3 linked regions of the Homo sapiens genome follow. The protein of the gene in region 1 purifies or fractionates together with the protein of each later gene. This does not show direct contact. Each region holds a gene or a part of one and is shown on either strand. Other genes may lie near its edges. The genes, in order: MAST4, OLA1 and STK38L.

What was found.
Region 2: the proteins of MAST4 (region 1) and OLA1 fractionate together in Homo sapiens (co-fractionation; one large-scale study listed by BioGRID). This does not show direct contact.
Region 3: the proteins of MAST4 (region 1) and STK38L purify together in Homo sapiens (pull-down; one large-scale study listed by IntAct). This does not show direct contact.

What each region holds. Positions count from the first base shown.
Region 1 is NC_000005.10:66,595,166-66,599,261, reverse strand, and holds the start of MAST4 (microtubule-associated serine/threonine-protein kinase 4), read right to left. Parts: upstream 2,870-4,096; 5' UTR 2,607-2,869; coding exon 2,244-2,606; intron 1-2,243.
Region 2 is NC_000002.12:174,245,593-174,249,960, reverse strand, and holds the start of OLA1 (obg-like ATPase 1), read left to right. Parts: upstream 1-1,428; 5' UTR 1,429-1,509; intron 1,510-3,145; coding exon 3,146-3,246; intron 3,247-4,368. UniProt on the Homo sapiens protein: Hydrolyzes ATP, and can also hydrolyze GTP with lower efficiency. Has lower affinity for GTP.
Region 3 is NC_000012.12:27,310,248-27,313,893, reverse strand, and holds part of STK38L (serine/threonine-protein kinase 38-like), read right to left. Parts: intron 1,346-3,646; coding exon 1,222-1,345; intron 1-1,221. UniProt on the Homo sapiens protein: Involved in the regulation of structural processes in differentiating and mature neuronal cells.

The sequences.
Region 1 (4,096 bases):
AGGTGAACACCCCCCTGCCCCATACCATCACCAGTGTAAGAACCAGAAAATGCACACTGGACTTCAACCCCTTTCACAAAGATTATCACTCCTCTACTCCATAAGAGGGGAAAAAACTACATGGTTTGGTTTTCGTTTCACTTTAAAATTCTCAGAGCAAGTCAAGATTTTGCTCCTGGGAAATTTCCAGCATCCCATGCCGCAGGTTAAGTTACATAATAAATTGCAATACTGTATCAGTTTACACGCAATTCTGAGATTTCACAAATAGTGACCCATGTTATTTAATCATTCCACTTTCCAAAATGTGTTTCAATCAACCAGTTCTCACTGCATTGCCTGTGAAATAAGTTATCATTATATCCACTTCCAACAAAGCAAAGCACTGTCACCCTGAGGCCAGGCAATAAATCAGCGACAGAATGGGGATCAGAAGTTCCCCGACAACATCCCTCCCCACCACCTGCAAGACCATGTCACTTACCATGGAGCACCCTCCTAGCTAAATAGAAAACATAAAGCAACTAACTACTCTCCACCAGCGGCAATACTAAATTAGGAACTATTGGTGAATCATTAAGTTAGGGTACACCCCCAGCTTCCCAATGCCAGTGTGCTCATCTGTAGAAGTGGAGGCAGAAGTTAAGGGGCAAACACGTGGCACATGCCCCGCACCTTGAAAGGGAGATGTAATCAGCGAGGAAGGCTGGGGCAGTACAGGGTTTGATCATCTCCGCTAGGATGTAGCTCTGCGGTGGGTGAGGAACTCAGCAAACTCCTGACATCCCGCCGCTAGGATCGATTTGGAGCTATGGATTCATCTGAAATTCCTGATTCGAAACAGGAGTATGAGAGTGAAAATGAAATTTACCTTGAAGCTCCTCCTTTTACAGATTATGGAACTGAACCTCAGAGGAGTGAAATGATATACCCAAGGTCTCACCACTCAGTAGCAGAGGCAGTTCTAGAAAGCAGGCCTCCAGACCCTTATCCAGGATCCTTGCAATGGGGGCTTAGGGGAATTAGGGAATGGGTCATGGTTACTGCAAGTGGCTTGGCCAAGAACCAGCTAAGCAGCTAAGGCTTGTTCCATCTCTGCCAAGCTAGGACTCGCCTCCTCTCAACCTTGTGCCACATCCAGTTTTTGCTTCCAGGCTGGGGGCCTCTGATTGCTTACTCTAAGGGACAAAGGCAATTATTTACTAAAGCTAACCCCATCCAAGATGAGGAAAATACAACACTGGCACTCAGGAATTAATTTCACAATAAGTCTATGTTAAGGTGATGTTTTATTTGTGGCCCTGCCTGATCAAGATGACTTCCCCACAAGAAACGTCCAAAGCAAACAATCTTTTTTTTTTTTAAACTGAGTCTGGCTCTGAGACGTGAAGAATTGTACACTTCTTTAACTGTCCTCCAAAAGCAGAAAATAAGCCGGACAGAGCAGCCAGAAGGACACCAGAGTCCTATGCTCAGTGTGTCAGGAAGCGACCCACAAGTTCTGGAGGAACATCCTTCCAGGAAACTGGGCAGATACAGATCCCCCACCCCGCTCCGCCCCGCAAAAGGTAAGACGATCTGTACTCGGTTTGGTGACAAGCGTTCATCTGGACAAGCTGGAAACAAGTCTGAACGGGAGCTGCAGGCGCGCACGCCAGCGCCACCGAGGGAGCGCGGGGAGTCCTCTTCTCCCAGAGGACCGACGCTGCGGGGACGCGCCAAAACCACCCGCGGGCGATCCCAGGGGGCTGGCGCCACTGAAACCTCCGCAGGCAACTCCGCGGCTACCGCTGCCCCCCACCCTACTCCTGCCTCTTACCCCCAAGGCACCATTTCTCCCCCTCAACTCCCTGCCCCTCGGCCCAAGCGCTTCGGTGGGAAACAACGCCCACTTTGGAGAATCAGAGGTGAGTTGTGGGGACACGCCAGATGTCCAGATCGCATCCTTTCACAGATCAACCAAGTCAGATACAAACACGAAGGAGTTTGCTTCTCTGACATTTTAAAAACACACCATCAGGCAGCACACTGAGACACACACACGGGGGTAACAGCCACAGGGAAGTCAATAACCCACAGGGGGGCTCCTAACTATCGTTGTCCCGTGCTCGGGGCAGAGCGCTTGGGGTCCCTCCCTATCTCCAGGCCACAGCGCTCTCCTGCCCACTGCCTGTGCGCAGGATGGGAAACTACGGTCGCCCGGCTGCCGGAACCCAGAGTGGGCAAGCTGGGGAAAGGCCCACCTCCTCGTCCTGCTCCTCCTGGGACGCGCTGCTGCCCCGGGGCGCGGGCGGCACAGCTCCTCCGGGAAGCGGCGGCGGCAGCGCAAGGACTCCGCGCTCCAGCAGCACGCTTGCCGGAGCCCACGCGGCGGGCGCCCGGGCGCCCAGGGTGCCTCCCAACGGCGGCGGCGGCGGCGGCTGATGCTCTCTGGAGAAGCCGCCGGGCTCCCCTTCCTCCGACAGAGTTTCTGAGCCCGAGGAGGACTCGGCCGAGGAAGCACCCGGAGAGGACGCGGCGACCAGCGCAGAGGCTGGAGTCCGGCTGCCGTGGCCACTGCAGCCGCGGGGCACCGGCTCTGGCGCCTCCGAAACTTTCTCCCCCATTTCCCTGTCTGGCCCAAAGTGCCTCCCGAGCGGCGGGGGCGCGGCGCGCACTCAGCGCCTCCCGGGGAAGACGCGGGCTCCTGGGCTCAGGCTCACTGGCACTGCCGCTCCCGGGCTGCAGGGAGCCCCGCCAGCGACTACATGGCAGTGACGGGGCCGCAGGAGCCCGCTGCTAAGTTCACAGCCGCCCGGGCCCGGCCGCAAACGGAGGCTCCCGCGCGCGGGGACATGCCCGCTCGGGTCCGCGATCTGCGCTCCACTGTGCTCCCGCGCTGCACCCGAGCCGCGGGTACTGCGGCTTCTCCTTGCAAAACCTGCCTCCGGGACGGAGCAAGGAGACGGGCAGCCCGCAGAGCCAATGGCAGGGCAGGCGCGCTGGTGGGCGGAGGCTGCGACGCCTCCGGCCATGAGGGCCTCAGGTAGGGGAGGCGGGGCCCGGGCGCGGGCCGTGGTCCCGCTGGAGCGCCTGGGCGCAGGGGACAGGGACCAGGCGGGGGTCCCCGGAGGGTGGGGGCGGAGCCCAGAATCGGAGCCAAGGGCTGAGACTCCGAACTTAGCGGGGGAGTGGCTGACCGTCCTTGGGACGTCAGAGGGAGACGGCGAGCGGATGGTGAGACCTTGGAGAAGAACTGGACTTTGTCTCCAAAAAGTGGAATCAAGAAAACGGACAAGAAGGAGGGCTCTATAGGGAAAAAAGGAACCACACACACACAGTCACCCACGCACACGGACTCACCAGCGTGTTGGAGGAAAAGGACAGAAACTTCGTGGTATAGTGAGCGGACCCAAAGGGGAGTGACCTCTAATCTCTGCTTTTCCGTTTAAGCTCTTTGGGCCTCAGTTTCCTCAACTGTAAATGGCTACATTACTACTGGTCTTGGCAGGCTTAGAGCAAATATATATAATGCATCAGCAAAGTGCCTGGCTTGGATACACGGAGCGTTTTTAAAAGACTATTTCCTGTCTTTATTTCTGTTTGTAAACTAAAAAGTTAAGTCTGAGACTTGAACCTTTTGATAGGGAGGAAGATAAAAAAGTATGTCCTTGTATTTAATTAGGACCAAGCTCTGTAGTCCTACTCAAATTGTCTGTCTCGGTATGATCAGCTAAGCAGAGGATGAAAAGGATTCACTTTCCAATGTACATTCTCCTAGCCCTGGGTTGTAAACCAACAGGATACAGGACAGGTTGCTTCATTTTCCTTACCTCTAAGAACTAGGAGAAAGAACTTTCACTAAAGGTACCAATAGAGTACCCTTAAGTCCTTCCCTGGGGCTGGAGGATGCTGCCTGTCCGGTGACTGGAATTTCCTTGGAAGCCAGCACTCAGCTCAGCAGTGGGAAATAAATGATTCCTCTCTTGCCTTCAGCTCTAGTCCCATTCTGAGCTCTGGCACAGTGACCTGGGATGTAAATTCAACCGCCTCAGTTCCATGTACGTTGATGGAGATGTGTGCCAGGTGCAGGGGATACAAAGATTAATAAGTCAGG
Region 2 (4,368 bases), on another chromosome or scaffold:
AGCCATCCTCTCACCTCAGCCTCCTGAGTAGCTGGGACTACAGGTATGTGCCACTACACCCAGCTAATTTTTGTTTTTTGGTAGAGATGGGGTCTCACCACGTTGTCCAGGCTGTTCTCCAACTCCTAGGCTCAACTGATCCCCCTATCTTGGCCTCCCAAAGTGCTGGGATTACGGCCAGATTTTCAGTTAGATTGTGGTTTGAAATATGCTGCTGCCATTTACTAGTTGTGTGACTTCATCCAAATTAATCAACCTTTCTGATATTGTTTCCTCACTTGTAAAATGGGGATGGCGACCTATTTACATCCTTTAATATTAATAGCAACTAATCCCTTTAAAAGGAGCTTCTAGTGTCACAATTTTTGGACAGGTATCATATTCATTACAACAAATACCTGAATGACATCTGAAGGCCAGGACCTAAATGAAAGAATTCCTTCTCCAGTGGCGCTCATGGTATTGATATGATGTGGGTGAGATGGGATGAAATCCTAATATTAACAACAGCGACTACTCACAAGCCTTTTCTGTATGTGCTGAGTACTGTTGTTATGAGCTCAACACGCATTGTCTCATTTTATTCTCACACGAATAACCTCATAAGGTGGTTTTAATAGCCTCATTTTATCCAGAACGAAATTGAAGTCCAGAGAAGTTAATTTGTCTAGGGTCATACAGTCAATGAGTGGCGAAATCCAGATTGGAAATTCCCAAATTTCAAAGGCCCCTGCTCTCAACTACCAAGAGGAAAAGGGGGGAAATTGGCTCAATTAAACGCATTCTGTGATCCAGTACCTGTGTGCGACGCTTTAACTATAAGGCGAGGAAGAAATCCCTAGACCAAAGTTTCCCTTAGCCCCTTTTCCTTCAAGAACTTTTAGTTAACAGCTTCTCTCCGCACAGACTGAGCGAATAAAGTTATAGAAAAGGGAGATGGGCTAGCGGCCACGCGGTCCTCGGGGCTGGTGTGGCTGTTTGCCTGACTTCAGACGCCCCGGATCTCCCGGAGGGAAGTCAGGGCCCAAGGCACTCCGCAGTCCAGCTGGGAAAGCTTGGGGCTGTAGGCCCGCGAGTGAACGTGAGCAGGTAACCCAGGCCGCGCAGCCAGACGGAAGCGGAGACCTAGAACCGAGAAGCCCACGTGCCGAAGCGGAAGACTAGAGCTCCCGGGAACGGCCTAGCCAGCGCCTTCCCCTCTCCAGCTCCCTGCCGCCGCGCGGCTCCTCCCACCCTGGGCTCCTCCCGCCCTACTCCCGCCTCCCCGGCCGGTTAGGCCAATGGGCGGGACGCGCGGGCAAGGCGGGGAGGGGCGGGGCCCATGGTCTGCGCGCAGGTGCCGCTCGGCGCCCGGCCCGCCCGTTCCGCCGCTGTCGCCGCCGTCGTGCGTGCCGCTCGGCGGAGGGGACGGGCCTGCGTTCTCTCCTCCTTCCTCCCCGCCTCCAGCTGCCGGCAGGACCTTTCTCTCGCTGCCGCTGGGACCCCGTGTCATCGCCCAGGCCGAGCACGGTGAGGCCCTCAGGGAGCCCGGGGGCGCGATCTCCGCCAGGTCTTCGGCGCCTGGGCTCATTGCCCTGAGGCTGGCGCGGGGCCCGGGCCCAGTGGCCAAGATGGGGCCAGGGCAGCGGGTGGCTTGGGGATGTGTGGATGAATGAGGCGCTGTCGGACTAGGCCGCGCGTCGGGAGATCGGCCTACGCCTCACGCGGGAAAGCCCTGGGGAAAGCCTTCTCCCGACGCCAGGACGCCCGGTGGCCCAGTCCGGAGAGGAGGATGGGGGGTGGGGCCCACTTTGGGTGGGCTGCCGGCCACCTCTCTGTAGGCCAGAGGACCCGACAGGCGCTGTTCCTGTATCTGTTCTTTGGAGGCCTGGGAGTTGGCCAGGAACAGGTGTCAGGACGCTGAGAAGGGAAATTCCTGGCCCTCGGGGTCAGGGATCAGAGGCTGGAATACTACTGCAAGGGCAGGGCCCCAGCGTGGTCCTAGGAGGTACAACTCTCAGCCAGAAGACTGGGACAGTTTTAGTTCCCAGCTTCTGAGACGTGAGCTTAGCGGTCTTTGTGATTTCACTTTGCAGTCCAAGGGTGGGAGTAATTCTGCACGCATGATTTGGAGACAGAACTAGTAAGGGACAGAGAAAGTTTCGACTTGTAAATAAAAAGGTTCCGTCGATTAATTTACCATTAGAAATAGTAACCATAATGTAGATTTTGGAGGTTGCTTATGAGGACTGATGAGCCGTACCTTCAGTGCCAAAGGTGGGAGGGACTTGGTGGAAGGACCCCAGTACCTGGTGGGTGTTCATCTATGTGAAAAATGGGGGTTGTGGGCGAATGGGAAAGATAAGATTCCAGATTATAGAGGAATGGTTTGGTGTGAAGGGTGACTTGGCTGCTGGTGGTTCCACAATGGAATTTTCTTTGACTGTCTTCTGTGTACTTGCTTCCAAATGCTTTCTTTCATATAACCATATATCAGGTTAAGATATAAAGTGTTTTGTGAGCAGTCTGGATGGAAGATTGGTAGCTAAACTCTAAGTTTATCTTTGATTCCTGGTGCCACAAATATTTTATTTATTTATTTATTTATTTAAGACAGAGCCTAGCTTTGTCGCTCAGGCAGAGCCCAGTGGCGTGATCTTGGCGCACCGCAACCTTCGCCTCCCGAGTTCAAGCAGTTCTCGAGCCTCAGCCTCCCGAGTAGCTGGAATTACAGGCTGCGCGCCTGATGGCCGGCTAATTTTTTTGTATTTGTTTTTCTTTTTAGTAGAGACGGGGTTTCTCCGTGTTGGCCAGGCTGGTCTCGACTCCTGGTCTCAAGCAGTCTGCCCACCTCGGCCTCCCCCTCCCAAAGTGCTGGGATTACAGGCCTGAGCCACCGTGCCCGGCCCAACAAATATTGATTTTAGATCAGTCTTTCTGGGACTTCTCAGCAATGACTCTTTTGACAACGGATATGTTTACAGAACTTTTTAAACATTTTTGCTGAAAAAAAAGTGGATTTAGCTCTGTGTTAGTTTTGGATCGCTATATACAGTATGTTTTGTTCTTAATCTTAATTCAATAATATATTGTATGTGATGAAATGTGTTTTGGGTCCATGTGGATAGTAAAAAGTTTTGTTCATATGTTTGCTTTGGTATTTCAGATGCCCCCTAAAAAGGGAGGTGATGGAATTAAACCACCCCCAATCATTGGAAGATTTGGAACCTCACTGAAAATTGGTATTGTTGGATTGCCAAATGTTGGGTAGGTGAACGTTGGGGCTTTTGTGATTTTCATTTTGTAAATATTTTGGGTCCTATTGTAGAAATGGGAACCGTGAGGTAATTAAACTTTAAGTTGAAGAAAAGAGGCCAGGAAGCTGGACTATTAATATTGCAAAATTAGGCTTTAGTTTAGATGTATTTTATTGATTTCAGTGCTGGTTGGCTATGTGTGGTACCTACATAGGCTGTCTACCAGAGGCCATGCAGTAGGCTACTTTAGGAAATTGATTTGAAAGCTCCACCATAATAAGCTTGATGGAGAAGGAGGTGACAGTTTTGAATTTCGTAGTGGAAATCGTAAAAGGTTTGCTGTTATAAAGAGTCTAAATCTGAAAGTTCTGAGAGCAGAAATTTGAGTTTTGTAATATTTTCTTTTCTTTTTCTTTTTTTTTTTTGAGATGGAGTCTCACTCTGTCGCCCAGGCTGGAATGCAGTGGCATGATCTTGACTCACTGCAACCTCTGCCTCCCGGGTTCAAGTGATTCTCCTGTCTCAGCTTCCTGAGTAGCTGGGATTACAGGCGCGCACCACCACGCCCAGCTAATTTTTGTATTTTTAGTAGAGACGGGGTTTCACCATGTTGGCCAGGCTGGTCTTGAACCCCTGACCTCATATGATCCACCTGCCTCAGCCTCTTATAGTGCTGGGATTACAGGCATGAGCCACTGAGCCCAGCTGTAATGTTTTCAAAGTTACAGTGAATTGAATATATGCAAATAAGAGAGTGATAGGAAATATATGTGGGGTTTATCATAACTCTATACACACGCAACTTAAGTGTTCAAAGTCTTCTTTTTTTTTGAGATGGAGTCTTGCTCTTTTGCCCAGGCTGGAGTGCAGTGACGTGATCTCAGCTCACTGCAGCCTCTGCCTCCCAGGTTCCAGCAATTATCCTGCCTCTGCCTCCCGGGTAGCTGGGATTACAGGCATGTGCCACCACGCCCGGCTAATTTTTCTATTTTTAGTAGAGACGGGGTTTTACCATGTTGGCCAGGCTGGTGTTGAACTCCTGACCTCAGGTGATCTGCCTGCCTTGGCTTCCCAAAGTGCTGGGATTACAGGTGTGAGCCACTGCACTGGGTCCAAGTGTTCCTTTTTCATT
Region 3 (3,646 bases), on another chromosome or scaffold:
TAAGTGCACCTGGAAACGAAATATATTCTTTTAGAGTTTAGTGGGACATTATCCCACTAAAAAAGGCACCTGCAGACATTCTTTTATTTTCAAGGAATTTTAAAAGTTTTAACAGTTTTAACTGTTGTAAACACTGGTGCACTTACAACACAGAATTGACAACTGATTACATTTTTTTCATATATTTTTTGAGGCTTTAAAAAAAATAGGGAGCCAGGGGCAGTGGTTCACGCCTGTATTCCCAACACTCTGGGAGGCTGAGGTGGGTGGATCACTTGAGGTCAGGAGTTTGAGACCAGCCTGACCAACATGGTGAAACCCCGTCTCTACTAAATACAAAAAAAATTAGCTGGGCATGGTGGTGGGCACCTGTAATCCCAGCTACTCAGGAGGCTGAGACAGGAGAATCGCTTGAACCCGGGAGGCAGAGGTTGTAGTGAGCCAAGATCACACCACTGCACTCCAGCCTAGGCAACAGAGCGAGACTTCATCTCAAAAAATAAAAATTAAAACAAAACAAAACAAAACCCAGAATTCTTTGCCCTCCATTGCCATTCTTTTCCCCTTGCCCTCTTTGCTGAGCAATGATTAAACCTCTTTCCTTTATAAATTACACAGTCTCAGGTATTTTTTTTTTTTTTTTTTGAGACGTAGTCTCGCTGTTTTCGCCCAGGCCGGACTGCAGTGGCGCTATCTCGGCTCACTGCAAGCTCCGCCTCCCGGGTTCACACCATTCTCCTGCCTCAGCCTCCCAAGTAGCTGGGACTACAGGCGCCCGCCACTGCGCCCAGCTAATTTTTTTTATTTTTAGTAGAGACGGGGTTTCACCTTGTTAGCCAGGATGGTCTTGATCTCCTGACCTCGTGATCCATCCGCCTCGGCCTCCCAAAGTGCTGGGATTACAGGCGTGAGCCACTGCGCCCATCCAGTCTCAGGTATTTTTTGTAACAACATAAAATAAACTAACACAACTTATAACAACCTAATTATATACAGTGAACCCAGAACGGTAATATTTAAAATGTGCTAACTTTATAATTCCTTCAAAACAATCTGTTTTGTGGTAAAAATGAGCATCAATATGGTAGTAAATATTTTTAAACTGTGACTATGTAAAGCCTCAGAGCAAAGAATATAAAAGTAAACCTCACCAATAAAATTATTGTTGCATATAAAGATGTGCTTGTATCAGTCTGTCATTGATACAATGTTTGCTTTTACCTCCAGGGAGAAATTCCATGATTAGATAAAGATTCCTCTTATCCTGAAAACTGTAAAACATCTTCACCACCCAGGCACCATCTGCTTCTACCAAAATATCTCTTTCTGCTCGGATATGGGCCACCTAGATGAATATATTTTTGAAAAAAATAATTGTAAATACATCACACATTTGTTAAACTCATCTCTTACACTTATCCATCCATAACAGTTAATGAAGGAAAGATGGAGTTTCAGAAGATTTGATACATGTATGAATGTTCGTATTCTCATCAAATATGGAGAACCTCAAGAAATAGTTTATTTTAGCTTATATCTTTAGGTCTGAAAAGGTGAGGTCAACAGGTATATTACGTGAAGCTGAGGCCTCTGAGGTAGAGCAAGAATCAGTCTAACAACTTTTTAACCAGAATCTCTACCCAGCCTAGGATCCTGGCTTTGTCACATAAATTTAGGGCACTAGTGTGATTTTTAAAGTTAAAAGTAGTAAGCAGGGCCGGGCACAGTGGCTCACGCCTGTAATCCCAGCACTTTGGGAGGCCAGGGCAGGTGGATCACGAGGTCAGGAGATTGAGACCATCCTGGCTAAAACGGTGAAACCCCGTCTCTACTAAACATACAAAAAATTAGCCAGGCATGGTGGCACACACCAGTAGTCCCGGCTACTCAGGAGGCTGAGGCAGGAGAATCGCTTGAACCCGGGAGGCGGAGGTTGCAGTGAGCCGAGATTGCGTCACTGCACTCCAGCTTGGTGACAGAACGAGACTCCATCTCAAAAAAAAAAAGAGTAAGCAATGCCCTGTAAATTGGTACAGCAAACCTAAGCTTGGCTAAAAATAGCAAACTATTTTTAATTGTTAAACAAAGGTCCCAGCTTGATCATTATTTGGTGTTTTTTAAAGAAATAGTAACAATTATAGTAACTTTATGTTATATTATTGTTATAATATAAAACCTCTACCATATCTATAAATGTTAGCTAAAGCAAATTTGTGTAACTTTTGGGGATTTTGCCACTGATTTCTCGGACACATAATTACTAGAGATACTATCATGTGAAAATGTTATAGACTGGAAAATTTTATAAACTGGATAATTTATGGGGTTGGTATAACTGGTCAGTTTGCAGATGCTTTTGCATTAATATATTTATACACTTTTTCCAAAGATTAATAAGATTTGATTTATGCTTTTGCTATTTTCATTGTGCAACGTTAAAAACTCTGGTCCAAAGCACATGAGAACATACATTTGTAAACCTTTCTATGATAATAAAATATGATCTGCTTAAAGTGTCATATTTGGAATTACTCCTAGTGCAGTAAATATTCTGAGATCAAAGCGTAAGAGTTGAGGAGTAAGAACTTGTCTTCTGGCATGAAAATACTTTATAATTTCTATGGATCTGTTTCATTAAGTGAAAAGTGGTAGCAAGAGTGCCTACCTATTACCTTTCATGAAGCAATTTAAGGTGGTAAGGAAAAGCCCTAAACTTTGGTGTTGCATCTGGTGTGTAAGGAAAACAACTACAACATAAACATGGCTTGATTATTTTTAAATGGTTTAAAGCCAAATTACAGGATCCCTTTCCAAAACAGGATCCAAAGGTTGGAAAGTATGACCTATAGTAATCTGGTAGAACAACAGTGAGGAGATCAGTTGGTATTTAATTTTGTGGGGGTGGTTTGCATTAAAATAAATGTGATAAAAGTTAAAATATTGATGTATTAGAATTGAGTAGAAAAAAGCTTTCTAAAACAAAATCCAGTGGTAACAAATGCAAATTAATTTATACAGGGGTAAAAAACAACCCCAAAATGCAAAGGCAACTAGACGTTAGGCTACGGAGAGATTTCCGCCCCCCACCTCCCCACAGGAAAGAGCAGTGGTCCAGAGGCTCCTTAACTTCCCACAAAATATTGTAGACCAAGGGCTGTCCAGTACAGATGTAACACAAGTCATGTATGTAATTTTTAAATTTTCTAGAAGCCACATACAGAATGAAATTATTTTTAATAATACAGTTTATGTAACCTAATATATCCGAATATTATCACCTTAGTATGTAATCAATATAAAAATCATTGAAATATTTTATTTATTTATTTATTTATTTTTGCACCAAGCCTTATTTGCTGGATATCCCAATTTGTGCCCAGTAGCCACATGTGGCTGGCTGGTATCTACACTACAGCTGGAACTAACTGCTTCCTTCTGTCCTTCCTATTATACCCTAGTAGGACTAATCCCATTATGGCTAAGTTAGATTCCTGTTGCCCTCCCTGTCTCTGAGGCTATGCATCTTTACCCACGTCCTTATTGCCATCATTATCTTTCTTTTTTCTTCCTTTTTGTGGAGAATGGGGTCTTGCTATATTCCCATCATTATCTATAGTTCTCTAATCCAACTCAGTATCTCAACCTT